Linked DNA regions of Homo sapiens: region 1 is linked to region 2. The links come from fine-mapping of genetic effects on gene expression. Tissue or cell type: testis. Region 2 holds a variant in brackets; the other region holds the start of a gene. All regions are shown on one strand. Distances are between the middles of the regions.

The links. PIP is the estimated chance that this variant, and not a neighbour inherited with it, causes the effect.
Region 1: it holds the start of CIMIP6, and the variant in region 2 is fine-mapped to the expression of CIMIP6 in testis (GTEx, PIP 0.97).

What each region holds. Positions count from the first base shown.
Region 1 is chr2:54,326,635-54,334,821 of GRCh38, reverse strand. CIMIP6 (ciliary microtubule inner protein 6) reads right to left here and starts at 3,938. Exons shown (of 5, transcript NM_001100396.2): 1 at 3,821-3,938; 2 at 1-5. The coding sequence starts at 3,846.
Region 2 is chr2:54,352,148-54,360,334 of GRCh38, reverse strand. It overlaps CIMIP6 (ciliary microtubule inner protein 6), which reads right to left. Exons shown (of 5, transcript NM_001100396.2): 4 at 1,261-1,376; 5 at 1-132. Among named protein-coding and RNA genes, the nearest start is that of CIMIP6, 25 kb to the right of the region's middle. The variant T/G (reference allele first, on the strand shown) is at 3,507.

The sequences.
Region 1 (8,187 bases), 26 kb after region 2:
GCTGTCTGAAAAACATAAATAGTAAACCATTTACCCCAGTAACCATTAAAATATTGAGTCAAAATTATGTAAAATAAGATTTAAATATACTACAAACAGCAGTCAAGACAATTTAGGCTGTATTAATAGTTATAAGGGTTTGTGCTGTTAAAATTTAGGAGGCCATTTTCTAATTCTAAATCATATAAGCGATAAAGGGCTTTGTGTTAATAATGATTACTCATTATAATATACCAGTGCAGTGCACCAACTCTTATTTGCTTGGAGTAAAGAAAGAGTAGTGATTGGATTATGCTTCCATATCATGTTTGCAGTACTCACGTGTGTGGATAAGTTACACGCTATAGTTAACTCAACTTCTTTAAAAGTTTTATTACCAAGAGAATGGCTTTATTCTCCCGTTTACCTAGTAAACAGCTATCTGGACAAGGATAAACCAATTAATTTTAAAAGTTTGTCTGGCAAACTTAAAGCTACCAAAGGAGCACCATTATTTATCTTTTCAAGAAAAGAACACTATGTGGCAGTCAAAATAAATCTCTTCATTTTTTGCCTCTAGTAAGCACTCTGTTACAAATACGAAAATTACTAAAATAAAATATTTTAAAAATGTATAGGAAGAAACAGCTTATCAGATTTTTCTCCTTTCAAATAAGGAGAAATTGAAATTATAAAAGGCAGTATTTTTAAAATTCACATACTTGAAAAATAAAGAATGAAATATATGAATTTGAATACTTTTTACATAGAAGCTTTTAAAATCAAAGCCATGATCCCACAGCAGGTGAGTCAATGAAACTCCAAATTCACAGAGAAAGCAGGTAGCACCGTTTAATCTTATACACAGCCCTTAAAGTATAACACCTGCCTTCCTCCAAACGAATGCCAGGTCCATCTCTTCTACCACATCATTTTTCTTTTTTTCCTTTTTGAGACGGAGTCTTACTCTGTCCCAGGCAGGAGTGCAGTGGTGCTATCTCCGCTCACTGCAACCTCTGCCTCCCAGGTTCAAGTGATTCTCCTGCCTCAGCCTCCTGAGTAGCTGGGGTTACAGGCGCGCACCACCACGCCCGGCTAATTTTTGTATTTTTTTTTAGTAGAGACAGGGTTTCGTCATGTTGGCCAGGGTGGTCTTTAACTCCTGACCTCAGGTGATCTGCCAGCCTCGGCCTCCCAAAGTGGTGGGATTACAGGCGTGAACCACTGTGCCTCGCCCACATCATTTTGCAGTTAAAACCCTCAAGTAGTTTTCCATTCATTTACAATAAAATACTGCCTCCTAATTGTAGCTCTGAGGTCCTGTGTGACTTGCCCCAGTGAACCTCTTCGACTTCACTCAAGACCCTCCAACCAGACTGCCTTCTGTCAGTTCCAGGGACACATCAATCTCTTTTCCCTCACGGCACCTGCACATGCTGTTCGCTCTGCCTGGACAGCTCTTCCCCAGCTCCCAGCACAGCTGGCTCAGGATATTTAGGTCTCAGCTTAAAACCATCTCCTCAGCAGCTTTTCCTAGATTTCTTTCCTCTACCACATGTATTCTCTATTTTAGTACTTTGTTCATTTCTTTTATTAACACCACAATTTTTTATGTACCTAGTTTTTTGTTTACTTGTTTTTAGTAAGCACTACAAATATCCTTTACTAGTCAATAAGTTCCATGAAGGTGTACATTGTTGAATTCACCATGTGCCCAACATCAGGAAAAGTGTCCTGTTCATCCAAGGTAAATGGACTGCCATTATAACATTTACATATTTCTGGTGAATCTGCTGGAGTTTACTCCAGCTTTGTTTGAATACCCTCAACCACCCCTCCAGTACACATAAAAACAACATTCAGAATCCTTGGATTCTAGTTCCCTGCTTCCCAAAAATTACTTTCTGCAAAGGATTTGGAAAAACTGATTACTGGTAAAGTGTAAAAAACTTCTAAACCTTTTTCTATTACCTTTCCAGAGATACAATTATTTATTTAAAGGTAGAGTCTTTGGGGTCAATTAATTTATTATTGTAGGCTTCTGGCATCAGTTTTTTCCACCTGTTTCTCATAGTTATCACCCAACAATATACACTTGTAGTGATCAAGTCCTTGAAGAAAAGGACTGGGGCTATTTGTTATATAGTTAAATTCATTTGATTAAGCACTTGTGGTATGAATGCCTACGGGTTGATAAATAAGTGTGAAATATATGACTCGAGCAATCTCTTGCCAGAAGAAAAGCACAGATAAAAACACTGATGGGCTCTGAAGTGAGTCAGACAGGGACTGGAATCCCAGTTCTGCCATATCTGAGCCTTTGTCTCATTTGCATGATAGGAACAATACCTATTGTAAGAGATATGAGAATAACATTGAATAATTCATTGTTTCAACAGATATTTATTGAGTTGCGTGCCAGGTGCTGTTGGAGGCACTGATGATAAAGCAGTGACAAAACAAAAATTCCTGCCCTCATAGAGCTTACACTCTAATGGGGAAAGGCGGATGAAAAAGTAAATTATATAGTCTGTTAAGTGCTAAGGACAATAATAAAATAGAGAATGGGAAAAGGGAGTGTATGTATGTAGGAGGTAGGTTTGCATTTTCAGGTAGGGTGGAGGCTGCATTGTGAAGGTGGCAAATGAAAAAAGAGGGGAAGAGAGAGCTAAGTGCATATTTGTGGGAAAAGCATTCTAGCAGAGTGAACTGTAACTGCCAAAGCTTCCCAGCAGAAGTGTAACCATCCTTAGCGCACTGCTTCTAAAAGTATGGGCACTGGAGTAGCAGCATTGGCATCAATTGTGACCTTGTTAGAAATACAAATTTATGGGGCCCATTTCCTTTATGTACCTAGTTTTTTGTTTACTTGTTTTTAGAAAGCACTGCAAACTCAGAATCTCTGGGGCTGGTTCCCAGGAACGTGTTTTAACCAGCTGTTTCGCTGATTCTTATGCACGTTCAAGTGTGAGAACCATTGTTCCAGGGACAAAAATACAGGCTTTGGAAGAGGGTATCCCTGGCTCCACATCATTCCTAACTAGCTGTATGTACTACCTTGATTAATAGTCTCAATTTAAGGTACATCAGAATCACCTGGATGCCTTGGTTGAAGCCAGATTATTGAGCCCCAGCCATAGAGTTTCTGATTCTGTGTGTCTCGGGGGTGGGAAGTCCCCAAAATTTGCATTCCTAACAACCAGGTGCTGCTGATGCTGGTCTTTATCACTGCAGATGATAGCAGAAAGGCCTGTTTGCTGTAGCAGAGTCCTGTCAGAGGGAGGCAAGAAACGGTAAGGGGCGTGTTGTGTAGACTCCATAGGCCATTGGAGGTGCCTTGGCTTTTACTCTACGATGTCGGATGGAGAACGGCGATCTAACCTGGGCTGTAAACGGATAGCTCTGACTGCTGTGTCGAGGAGGCTGCAGAGGGGTAAGGGAAAAGCAAAGCCACCAACTGGAGGGCTGTTGCAGCATCCCGGCAAGAGAAGCTGGTACTTGGGACTGGGTGGGCACAGTACTGAAAGTGATGAGCAGTGGTAGATTCTGGATAATTTTAAAGGTAAAGACTACAGAATCTGCTAATAATTGTGAGAAGGAGTGGATGACTTCAAGAATTTTAGATCCGGTAATGCAAGTCAAGTCCCTGACACACAGTATGTGCTCAGTAAACGGTGCGTTTTAAAAATTATTGTTGTAAGCGCTCAGCCAACTGGAAATTAGAGAAGCAAGGGGGCTGTCTGAGCTTGGCCTGGACTGTCCATGCTGGATCCCGGCCTCCCCCTGAAGGAGGAAAATAGTTTTTGGAAAGGGAAATAAGACACCAAACCCCAGCACTTACTGATGCTTATCTTCCTTTTCCTCCATGGGCCTCTACGGCACCAGGCAGCGAGGAGCCTCCTGGGAAGAACAGGGACGCAGCCCTGCCAGGAAAAGGGTGCGCAAAGCGCGGCGACTGTGACTCGCGCGTTGCTAAGCGACGGGCGCTAGTCCTCGGAAAGGGGCGTGGGGGGAAACTCCTGGAGTGCGCAGGCGCAGTTAAGCCGGGTTGGTGCTGGACTGTTGCTCACTGTGCGCGACTGCGCGGCGAGGAGGGCGGGGGTGCCTGGCCGCGTCTCTAGGCGTGTGGGCTCGACGCCCTGCGTTTGAACTTGCCCTTCCCATTGTAGGGCCAGGAGGGGTGTTTATCAGGACTGATTTGGTCCTTGAGGATAGGGGAAGGGCTGTTTCCGGAGCTGCGGGGCAGCGCTGCTGCCGTCTCCGCCGTGCCCGCCCTCCGGAGCCCGGCAGGTCGTCGTCAAAGCGCTGCCACGGGTCGCCCAAGCTGGCTGCAAAAGTGCGGGCCGGCGGGAAGGATACTTGTTTTCCCTTGTATTGTTAACAATACTGTGCGAGTCGTGATTGGTTGCTCCTGAGCTGCCTAGCCTTTACTCCAGAAAGCTTGGTTGTCACTGTTTTCCACCATTTCTGACAAAACCTTCCCCGGCTGGGCTGCCAGGATTAAAATAGAGCAAGGGAACACTCATCTCCTGCAAATGAGGCTCCCTGCTGTGTGTCATCTGTTGCAGCCTGAGCGGGGTTCAGAATAGGGTAGCTTAGGCAGCGGGTTGGGGCTTGTATGTGTAGCACTTACCCAAAAAGAGCAAGCTCCTGGGAAAAGCCGTTGCTGACTTGCATCCACCTTCTGGCCCTGGAATTTCTTACTTCATTTCACCATTGCCTCCCAATTTCCACTACCAGAGCCAAAAGTCTTTGGCATCTGTCATAGTAACTCACGCATTTCCCTGGATAACGGAAAAAGAAAAGTCCAGAGTTGAATTCTGCCTTATATCAGGCTATGCATACGTATATGTTTGGAATCCAGAGTCAGTGTTCGTGTGTGTGTTTACATTCACCTTGGAGAGTGATGGGAGAGCAGAGGTTGGTCCTAGGACTCATTTTATGTATGTGACCTGAAATCCTATCAGGAAGAAGAATATATGTGTAGATTTGACACCTAGTGACCTAAATACCTGAGTGTGGACTTCGTTGTTAAAGACTGGAGTGTGTGTGAATGTGTCATTGTGTGTGTGTGTGTTTGGTGAGTAAGGAGTGGATGAGTAAATAAATATGGGGCAAGTGGGTTGAAAACCAGAAAGCAGGGGGAACTAATAGCAATTGAGCTTCCACTAGGGGACCAGGCATTTGTTAGGCATTGTATTAAACACCACCTGCTTATCTGGTCTTATCCTAACCATCACACTGTGATTAGGAGCTTAGGGTCTGGGAGCAGTCAGTGTTTGAAACCTGGCTTTACCACTTAACTAGCTAGTTCACTTGGGCAAATGATCTAACCTCTCTGAGCCTCAATTTTTTTCATCCACAAAATGGGGAAAATACCTAGGGTTGTTGTGAGGTGTAGATGATTTAATACAGGCAGAGTACTGAGAACAGGGCCCGATGCTTAGTAAGTGCTTTGCCATTATTTTTATTGATCAACTTGATCTGCTTATGCTGCCACATGTCCTTGAGGGTTAGTCAACTCCCTCATCATTCCCCCTAATTTCTGCTTCAACCTTCACCAATCTCTTCAAGTCCTAAAACCACTTACCCTCAGGAACAATCTCAGGGCTTAAAGAAATGAGGGCATTTTCTCAACTTGATCCTTTCAGACTGACAAGTTCACCTGCATCCGTACAGGATTAGAGTCATTTGCCTCTCTTTTGAGCGGTATGGTATTAGTTTTAAATATATTTATGTCAATCTCTGTTAAGTAGCTTGCATATGTCTAGGACTTATTAAAAGCTATGAGAAACATTTAAAAAAGAAATTGTGGGCTAGGTGCAGTGGCTCACGCCTATAATCCCAGCACTTTGGGAGGCCAAGGCGGGCAGATCGTGAGGTCAGGAGATCGAGACCATCCTGGCTAACACAGTGAAACCCCGTCTCTACTAAAAATACAAAAATTAGCCGGGCGTGGTGGCACGCACCTGTAGTCCTAGCTACTCGGGAGGCTGAGGCAGGAGAATCACTTGAACCCAGGAGGCAGAGGTTGCAGTGAGCCAAGATTGCACCATTGCACTCCAGCCTGGGTGACAGAGCAAGACTCAGTCTCAAAAAAAAAAAAAAAAAAAAGGAAAGAATTTGTGCCAATCACAGGGAAGTCACAATCTAGTTAGAGACATAAGACATACAGTAAAACAAAAAACTGTGACCAAAACATCAATGATACATGAACGCATTATATAACTGATAGACAAAGTATCACATTGCAGTACTGATAGTATAATAATGTGCCAATTATTTATTCCTGGTGCATTCTCTGCAGGGTGCCGCATAAAAGTATGAATTTTATAATAACTTTTGATGTTTTTTATACAGAAAAAACACTGGGCTGCCATTAGTGGTTTTTACTACTAACTAAGCATTGACCTAGGAGAGACACTTAAACCTCTGTGCGCTATAGATTTTGACTTGTAAAAAGATAACTTCATATTGTCTTCATGATCTCTTCCAAATGTAAAATACAGTGATTCTACTGAAAAATTTGTCTGAAAAATCAATGAACACACTAGCTTAAATAATACATGTAATTTTCTAATTTGTGATAGATATTTGGATTCTTGTCAATGAAGAATAATTCAAAGTAGGTACTAATATTATGCAAGTTAAAAATACCGATGCTCTTTGAGCAAGAACACCATATGTGAGGGAACACAATAAGATGGAAATTGCACATCCAAAATGTTATAGATGTAGAAAATTTTCAACATTTTTTTGTAACCATAGGAAAATTCCAGAAGTAAAGAATGGCACAGTTGTATAACCTGATAGGAAAGCTGAGGCTCAGGGAGATCCAGCTTCCTCTCAGTTCTTTTTTCAATGTTGTGCGTGTGATACAGGTGAGGATCTCAAAAATATGGCATAAACAAAAGCTAGTCCTAGTTCTATTTTTAAAAGATAATTTATTTGCCTCATATACATGTGTTGTGAGGATTAAATGAGAAAATACGTTCAGAGAGCTTATCCTGGCACATAGCACTCACTAAGAGTTAGCTGTTAGTCTTCCTATTTTTATAACTAGTAGGGTAGAAGATTCATTAAGTGCATGCATTATGTTGTCTTTGTTTCATTATCTTATACTATAAAAATTTTATCAAACCAGAATATACATGAATTTGAGGATAATGGAAATGAAAAATGGTAGTGTTAGGTCTGCCCATCTTTGAAGATGGATAGGTTCAAATAAATCACAGAAATGAAAGGGACCCTGTGTTTTCCTCTGGTCGAGGTTCAAAGCTAATTGATTTGTAGCATGCTTTTAAGAGAGACATATTACTAAACAAATAAGTATAAATTGTTACATTTCCTAAAGGGTAAAAATCTCTAGTAGAAATCATATAGATCACTTCTGATATAAATAATCCTGGGTATGCCGGGCATGGTGGTCCACACCTGTAATCCCAGCACTTTTGGAGGCCGAGGCAGGCAGATCACCTGAGGTTGGGAGTTCAATACCAGCCTGACCAACATGGTGAAACCCCGTCTGTACTAAAAATACAAAAAATTAGCTGGGCATGGTGGTGGGTCTCTGCAATCCCAGCTACTTTGGAGGCTGAGACAGGAGAATTGCTTGAACCCGGGAGGCAGAGGTCGTGGTGAGCTGAGATTGTGCCACTGCACTCCAGCCTGGGCAACAAGAGTGAAACTCCATCTCAAAAACAAACAAACAAACAAAAAATACAAAACAAATCCTGGATATATGCATGGGTATGTTTATATTCATATAGATATATAAATTAAAATCTTAATTACATGAGATCTCCTGAAAGAATTAAAACAGCCTGAGTTACTACAAAATGATCAGAAATCACTAGTTTGCAAGTTTACCCGATTGAATGAAGAAATTTGTATTTTATGAATTTGGAGGGCTTATATTTTATTAATTTGCCCACCTCTATGATTTCATGACTTAAGGTTTATTTTTAAATAATCCCAAATACGGTTGCCTGTATAAATGTTGCATGACCAAACAAAGGGTGAATGAAAAAGCCTGTCTTAGGTGGAGAAAATAGTGAAGGGACATTTCCATAATGCAGTGGTATTTTAAATAGAGTGGTCATGGGGTGAAGATGGGTTGAATGAATGGCTATGGATATTTAGCTTCTTGAAGAAGGAACATTGCAAAATGAAACATGGCTGGGGTGATATCATTCTCAAAAGGTTAGG
Region 2 (8,187 bases):
GTTTCCTTTCTCTGTTTTTTTGGACTGTTCTGATGAACGTGACCCTGGAGTGTTCAGTAATACCTCTGCTCCTTTAGGAACTGTTGGCCTACTGCCTGGTTTTATCTCTCTCTGTACAAAAGCTCCGTGTCTCTGGAAAAGAAAACAAAGTCGACATTAACCAGGAGAACGCAGATTGCTGGAAGATGCAGCTGTGAACTGAATTTGTGCGTTAGCTCAAGTCCTAGTCAGTGATGCAGGCACTTCTCTGCCTCTTCATTGGTGTCACCTCAGTCCCAAACTAGACACCACCATATATGGGTGAACCTTTTAAATTATAAAATAGGGTGCATCAGAAAATGAACAGGAAGGAAAAAGGCAGAATGTCAAAGAAGTAGCAGCTCATCTCCCATTCTCAACTTTTTTATCATTTGGACTGTTTAAGACTATTCACATCAAATTTCATTTCTTGCTCTAAAGATTGCTATGGATACAACAAAAACTACAGTTCATAGACCTAAGAATTTATGATTGCATCCCAAATGCCTATTAACGCTGATGAAAAGCTAAGTAATAATAAAATATGAAAGCAAACATCTATAGTTGGAAAAAAATCCAATAATTGACAATTACATTTCTATTTGGCTTTATAAACCTTACATGCATCTCCCTGCCACACACATGTATTAAGCATATCAAAACATTTGTCAAACTGCTTTGATATTATTACTATTATTATTATTATTATTATTATTATTGTTATTAGAAATGAGACTTGCTATGTTGCCCAGGCTGGCCTCAAACTCAAGTGATCCTCCTACCTCAGCTTCCAGAGTAGCTGGGACTACAGGCGTCAAGTCACTGTGCCCAGCATGCTTTGATATTATTTTACACAAATTATTTCAATAATTTAAGTAGACCAAATTCCAAAGACTGATTCAAATTATTATGTTTGGATTGATTGATTGAGATGAGGTTTCATTGTGTCACCCAGGCTGGAATGCAGTGGTGCAATTACGGCTCACTGCAGCCTCGAACTCCTGGGCTCAAGCAACTCTCCCACCTCACCCACCTGAGTAGCTGGGACTACAGGTGGCACCACCATACCAGGATAGTATTATTCCTTACATTTTACTATGGTATGTGGCTAACATTCTATCCTATTAATAACTGAAGTAGTTTGTTTAAATAGACAGAAAGATAATTATGACTTGAAAAAGCTTAAAGTTCTACAAATCTACTCTGTCTTAAAGTATTAAATAATTCTAAATACTGCCTCACCTTTCCCTGGAGAGGCTCATTCGGAGTTTTTCTGGCATCATATTGATGTATAAAAGAGATGTATTCTATAAAATTGTTTTGAAGTTCTGCTGATGTACCAGGAGAGGCAAGTGGTACTAAAAAAAAGATTTTGTGAAGTCAGGACAAAAAATTAGATTTGTTTATGGACATATAATCAGTATTAATAATATAAAATATGGTAACAAAACTAAATTCTTGAAGTATGCAAGATTATTTACACAATCTAAATAATAAATAGAATGGATTCACCATTCTTTCTTCATGAAAAGAGCCAAATCAAAACAACCAAATTAGCCCCACGTGTGGAATTATTAGTAATTTTTAAAACTAAAATTAATATTAATACAACAATATGGTCAGGCATGGTGGCTCATTCCTGTAATCCCAGCATGCCCTGGGAGGAGGCCAAGACAGGAGGATTGCTTGAGCCCAGGAGTTTGAGGACTAGCCTGGGGAACATGGTGAAACCCCATCTCTACAAAAAATAAGCCAGGCGTGGTGGCATGTGCCTATAATCCCAGCTGTTTGGAAGGCTGAGGTGGGAGGATCGCTTGAGCCCAAAAGTTCAAGGCTGCAGTGAGCCATGACTGCACCACTGTGCTTCAGCCTGGGCGAAAGAGAGATCTTGTCTCATTAAGGAAAAAAAAAAAAATTGTTAGATATGCTTTTTACACAGATACCAATACATTTTAGGGAAAACATAACTATAATTTGTTAACTTTTCACGACTAGAAAGAGTATGAGAAATTCTATGTTGAATCTATAGTTTGGCCAGTGGCTGTGGCCACAGGGTAGAAATTGTATGCCGAAGCTAGCACTAATGGAATTGGAAGACTCTAGGGCTGCTGCAGTTGTAGTTGAACACATAATTCTTTTCATTTCGCCCAATAACAGGGGTTCTGAAAAATTTGCAAGAGTATGAAATCCTTTAAAAATCACTTCTAAATAATCTTTCAATCTGGGTGATGAGTATATGAGTTCATTATATTGGTCTGTGCTCCATGTATGTTTAACATCTTAAATAATTTTTAAAACTCAGTTTTACTTTCAGCAGAGAAGGTTATTTAAAGATCAGAGCAACTTTCAGTACTGTTGCTGGCAATAAAAAAAGTTTAGTGAAGTAAAATTCTATCAAGGACAAAAATTTCTCCCTTAAAAAATATGTATGTGGCTGGGCGCAGTAGCCCACGCCTGTAATCCCAGCACTTTGGGAGGCAGAGGCAGGCAGATCACAAGGTCAAGAGATCGAGACCATCCTGGCCAACATGGTGAAAACCCCGTCTCTACTAAAAATACAAAAAAAAAAAAAATTAGCTGGGCGTGGTGGTGAACGCCTATAGTCCCAGCTACTCAGGAGGGTGAGGCTGGAGAATCACTTGAACCTGGGAGGCAGAGGTTCCAGTGAGCCAAAATCGCGCCACTGCACTCCAGCCTGGGTGACAGAGCAAGACTGTGTCTCAAAAAAAAAAAAAAAAAGTACGTAAGAGTTTATGTACAACGAACATATCTGTGAAATGCTATGTAACAAACTGGTAACAGTGGTGACTGTAGGGAAAGAGAACTGGGTGACTGGAGGACAGAGGTGGGGAGAAGTAGATTCAGTTTTCACTGTATATCTTTTTGTACCATTTGAATTTTGTGCCATATGCTTATATCAACTGTTAAAAAATAAAATTTAACTTTTAAAAATCACACCTTTAAAATTAGAGGAATACATAAGAAAAAATGTTAGTAAATTTACATGTATTAAGCATTCATGAATTCACTTTGATATTCAGACATTGTTATAAACTAATTTTATTAGCAAGCATGACTAATATTCAAATACTTATACATTACATGTTACAAAATGGCAATCTTTTCCCAGTTAGCAGTATAAAAAAAGTTAACTGTTAACATTTTCTTGATTTCTAATTGCAATCAACTGCTCAAAACTCATTTTCTACTTAATCATTACCTTTCTTTTAGAACTTGCTAGAAAACAGAAAACAGTAGTGCAAAGATTTAATAAGCATGACACTGAGAAAATTCTATCTATAATTTATATTTTTTTCCACCAAGTGGGAAAAGATGACCATTTTTTTTATGAATATCATGGTCCAACTCACAGAACATTAGTATGTGCGGACACAGTTTCATAACTTCGTGTATAGACAGAATGAAGCGGCTCTAAATTTAGGCATTAATTAGGTGGTGGTAATGAAGTATCCAAAGCATGCATTTGG[T/G]AATAAAATAGACATGTTTTCAAATTCTGGCTTTACCACATTTCCTAGTTGTGTGACTTTGAAATAAATCACTGAACTTCATTGAAATTCTATTTCCTCCTCTCTAAAATGAAGAAAACAATAATTTGCTTTTTGAATTGTGAAAATTAAGGGCAGTGTTTGTGAAGTCTCTAGGATGCTAGGGTCAAATTATGGAGTCTTCAAAGTTAGCAAAGGGCCAGCTCTTTTGTATCTTGACAAAAGGGGAAACCATGGAAGGGAAAAGGAAGCAGGAACCGGAGCTACCAAAAAAAAACTGTGAGAAACCCAAAGGCTTTAGTGAACTGGTACGAAGGGTTGGTGGCAATTTGGACTGGAGGGTAGGAAGGTCAGATGTAGCCAAGAAGAATAAGTTGTGGGAGAGCTTTTAAAATCTGCTCTTGACTTTCCCTCACATTGCCTTGGGAAGATCATGCTTGCCCAGGGCCACAGAAACTGGCAGCAACTGCCTAGCCAGTTGTTGTCAATACAGTAATAGCAGAAGCGCGCAGAAGTCCCTCCAGGATAACGAGCTGATGAAAATGGGTACATGTTGCCCCCTTGGGCATTTCTTCCTCCAACATTCCCCCAGCAACCGTCAATGCTGGTGAATTAAAAACATCAAGATACTGACTTATCTCAGTGATGCCTTTTTTTTTTTTTTTTTAACAGTTTAAGGGTGGTAGGGTGGATTCCTGACTACATGACCAGCCTAGTAGAGTGACAGTAATTAACAATGGTCTAAATAGGTTTTGTGATACCAGAAGCTCTCTGGCCTGAGCCTCATTTTCTTTCCTCAAATTTAGTGGGAGACATACAAACCAGACCCTGGTCTTCAGCCTTTGTCTGCACAGGCCTACTGATTCCCCTAGGGGAATATGATCTACCATAAATTTGACCATAAAAGAAAATTTTAAAACATATACTGTGTGAAGGAGAATTATCAGAACCAATATACCAAGAATTTAAAATAAGCATAACAAATATCCTCAAAGATACAGAACAAAGTATTGTTAATACGAACAAGAACAGGTCATAAAAAGGAATAACAAAAAATGTTAGAAATAAAAAATATAACAGTTGAAACAAAAAAATACATGGTCTAGACAACAAGAATCATGAACTAGAAAATCAGACTGAGAAGCTGTCCCAGAAGGCAGCAGGAAAGGATAAAGAAATAAAGAAAAGCTCAGAGACATGGAAGGTGGAAGTATCAACACCAGAACTAAGAAGAAATAGAGGGAAGGGAAGGAAATATTTGAGAAAATGATGATGATATATATCCAAGAATTAAAGAAAGCTCAAACACCTCAGATTGAAAGAGCTCACAGAATACCAAACAGGTAGCAGGGGCAGGAGAAAAATGAGGCAATGAGACACAAAGGATGCAAAACTTTAAGGAGGCACTTGCATGACCCTGGGAGTGAGTGCCTCCTTAAATTTTACACCCTAGTTGGGTTTCTCACTCTCCTCTCGATCTTGCAGTACAGATAAAGGAAAAACTCGCATCTAAGACATTTAATAGAGAAATTTAACATCATCTGGGACAAAGAAAAATTATAAATGCTTTCAAAGAGGTAAATTATGAAGGAGTAACAACAGGTTAATATCAAATTTCTCAATAGCAACATTGGACACAAGATAATTAATTTTTTTAATATTAAAAGGAAAAGCACTTTAAGCCTAGAGTTTTTATATCCAACCAAATTTTCATTTAACTGTGAAGCCAAAATTTCAAAAACATGGGAAGGAAAGGAAGGCCTCAGATGATTTCCCCCCAAAACAGACCTACTTTGAAAAACTAGAGGAAGAATTCAAGACTAGAAATAAATCAAAGAGGATGTCTGATATATAAGGAAGAAAATAACAAAAATTTTTGTTTCCTGAAAAAGATAAGGATTAAAGAACAGAAAATTCTAAGTATTATACCTGTAAAAACTCAGAACTAAAATTCTATTGTTTAACATTAATGGAGCCCCTGGTGAATACTATAAAAAAGAAAAAAGTAGTACAATGATTACAAAGGAGGAAAAAAAAAGTAATTGTAGGTAATATAATTACCTGAATAGAAAAACCACAAGAGTCCATCAATTATGAGAATAAGAGTATGGCAAAGTAAACAGACATCGGATAAATGTATAAAAATCAAAAATCAAGAGCATTTCTCTACAATAGTGATAACCTACTAGAAGATATAATGAAAAATAACATATATTCTTAGTAGAAACAGAAACTATATAGTATGAAGTTTCTAGAAATTAAAAAAGCATTCACAAGATCTCTATAGAGAAAAAATTTAAATTCTGTTAAAGACCTAAAAGTAGAACTGAATAGACATTCTATGCTCTTGAATAGGATGATAGCATTTTATTATAATGGTGACTTTTTCCTAAATTAATATATAATGTCACCACAACCTAATCAAAATTCTAGCTGGATATTTTGAGCAATGTCATACATTTCAATGTTTAAATAGAAAAATAAATCCCATAAATCAGCTCTGAAGGAAGGGTGAATAATTGAGACTTTCCATATCAGATATTAAGACCAGCTAAAAATCCATATAATTAAAATATTTTGGTACTGATCCAGGAACTGAAAATTAACCTGAGTAACGTAACAGAGAGCTTGCAGACAAACTCATTTATATATGGAATCTTAACATAAAATTAAGGAGGTCCTATAAGTAAATGGGAAAAGTGCAGATTATTTTATAAATGGTTTTCAGAAAAGTGGTTCACTCTATGCTGGAAAGTGGAATTGATTCCCTACTTAATAGTGCGCGCATGGTGGACTCTAAGATTAAAGACCTAATTATGGAAGGTAAAAGTATAAAATCAAGATAAGAAAATGTAGGAGAAAACTTTCTTTACCTAAGGGTAGGAAAAACCCTTCTTAAAACAGCCAGTACACAACCCATAAGGTAAAAACTTGATTATATTAAAAAACATAGGAGAACTGCTCGATGAAAGACACCATGGGCAAAGCTAATAGAGATGGCAGATTGGAAGGAGATATTTGTAACGTGGGAACTAATGGGACAGAACATCAGTGGTAATTTCAGAGTTAAGGACCTTTGAAAAAGCTGCTCCTCCACAAAAGCAATGAATACACTGGCAAAAGTCATCAAAATCAACTTTTTTAGAACTCTGGAGATTAACGAAAGGCATGCAATAATCTAAGGAGCATTTATTCAAGAAAAATGGCTTAATCTTCATAATAAAAGCAAGTTTGATGACATTTTAACTCATGCAGTTTCCCCCTCCCCCCACTCCCAATCTCCCCTCTGCAGAAGCCTTGAAAACCAAGAGCCCTGCAATTATGATGAAAACCAGAAGCCTATCAACTACTGGAAGAAGCGGAAGGGGTTTGGAGTGTCTCACAAATACCAACTCAAGAGAACTGTCACTATTTAACCTGGCCTGCAGGGTTCGTCTTTATAGACATGACTCAGAGCCCTAAAAGTGAATTATGCACCCCTGCCACCCTGCCCTTGCCTCACCCCACGACCAAGTATTCATCCGAAACAATCAGGGACGGTTGTTTAACATTACAGCTGCCTAAGGTGACAGTAACAGTTGGGGCAAATAAGCTGCCCCAAACTGGAAATGTATATGCTATGCTTTCTATTGGGTTAAAATCAGATGACAGCAATTTCCACATCTGAAAAATCCTCAGACAACAGAGTTTACATCTACCTACTGCAAGGAGATCTACATAAGATGAATTTAAGTTATAGTGATGTTTTAGTAAGTGAACTGCGTAAAGCAAAATCTGTCATCATTAAAAGCCCTCTGGAAGGAGCAGGACAGTGGAGATTTTGTTGGTCAGAGGAGTCGAAATTTCAGTTAGAAAGGAACAGTAAGTTTAAAAGATCTAATGTACAGTTGGTGCTCTCTATCCATAGGTTCTGTATCCACATATTCAACCAACTATGGATTAAAACTTTTCAGGAAAAATAAACCACAAAAATAATACAAATAAAAAACACGATAACAACTATTTGCATGGCATTTACATTGTATTAAGTATTCTAAGTAATCTAGAGATTAAAGTATATGGGAAGATGTGCGTAGGTTATATGCAAATACTACACTACTTTATATAAGGAACTTGAACATCTGTGGATTTTGGTATCCACAGGGGTCCTGAAACCAATCCCCTGGTTACTGAGGGATGACTGTGCAACAAGGTAACCATAGTTAATGTATTGTACTCTTGAAAATTGCTAAAATAATAGATTTTAAGTGTTCTCACCATAAAAATAATGTATGTGAGGTAATAAACATCTTAATTAGCCACTTCACAATGTATATTTCAAAACATCATGTTGTAAGGATGTTTTGTATAGATACAAACAATTTTTGTTTGTCAGTTAACACTGTCTGTAATAATCACAATAATACCTAGCCATGGATCAGATTAAATACAAATAGCATATCAGACAATTTTTCTTATAGTGTAACAAGTAAAGACTGGTTATAGAGTGGCTTCTTTTCAAAACCAATATAAAACAAATTTAATGCTTTACTAATACTCAAAACCAATTTTCTGGGATTTACACACTACTAAAGTAAATGGTTGGTAAACCTTTTTAATTCTGGGAAACTTTGGGATTAAATATAGAGATGAGAAAGCAAAGAAAGTTAAACCTGTAATTTGT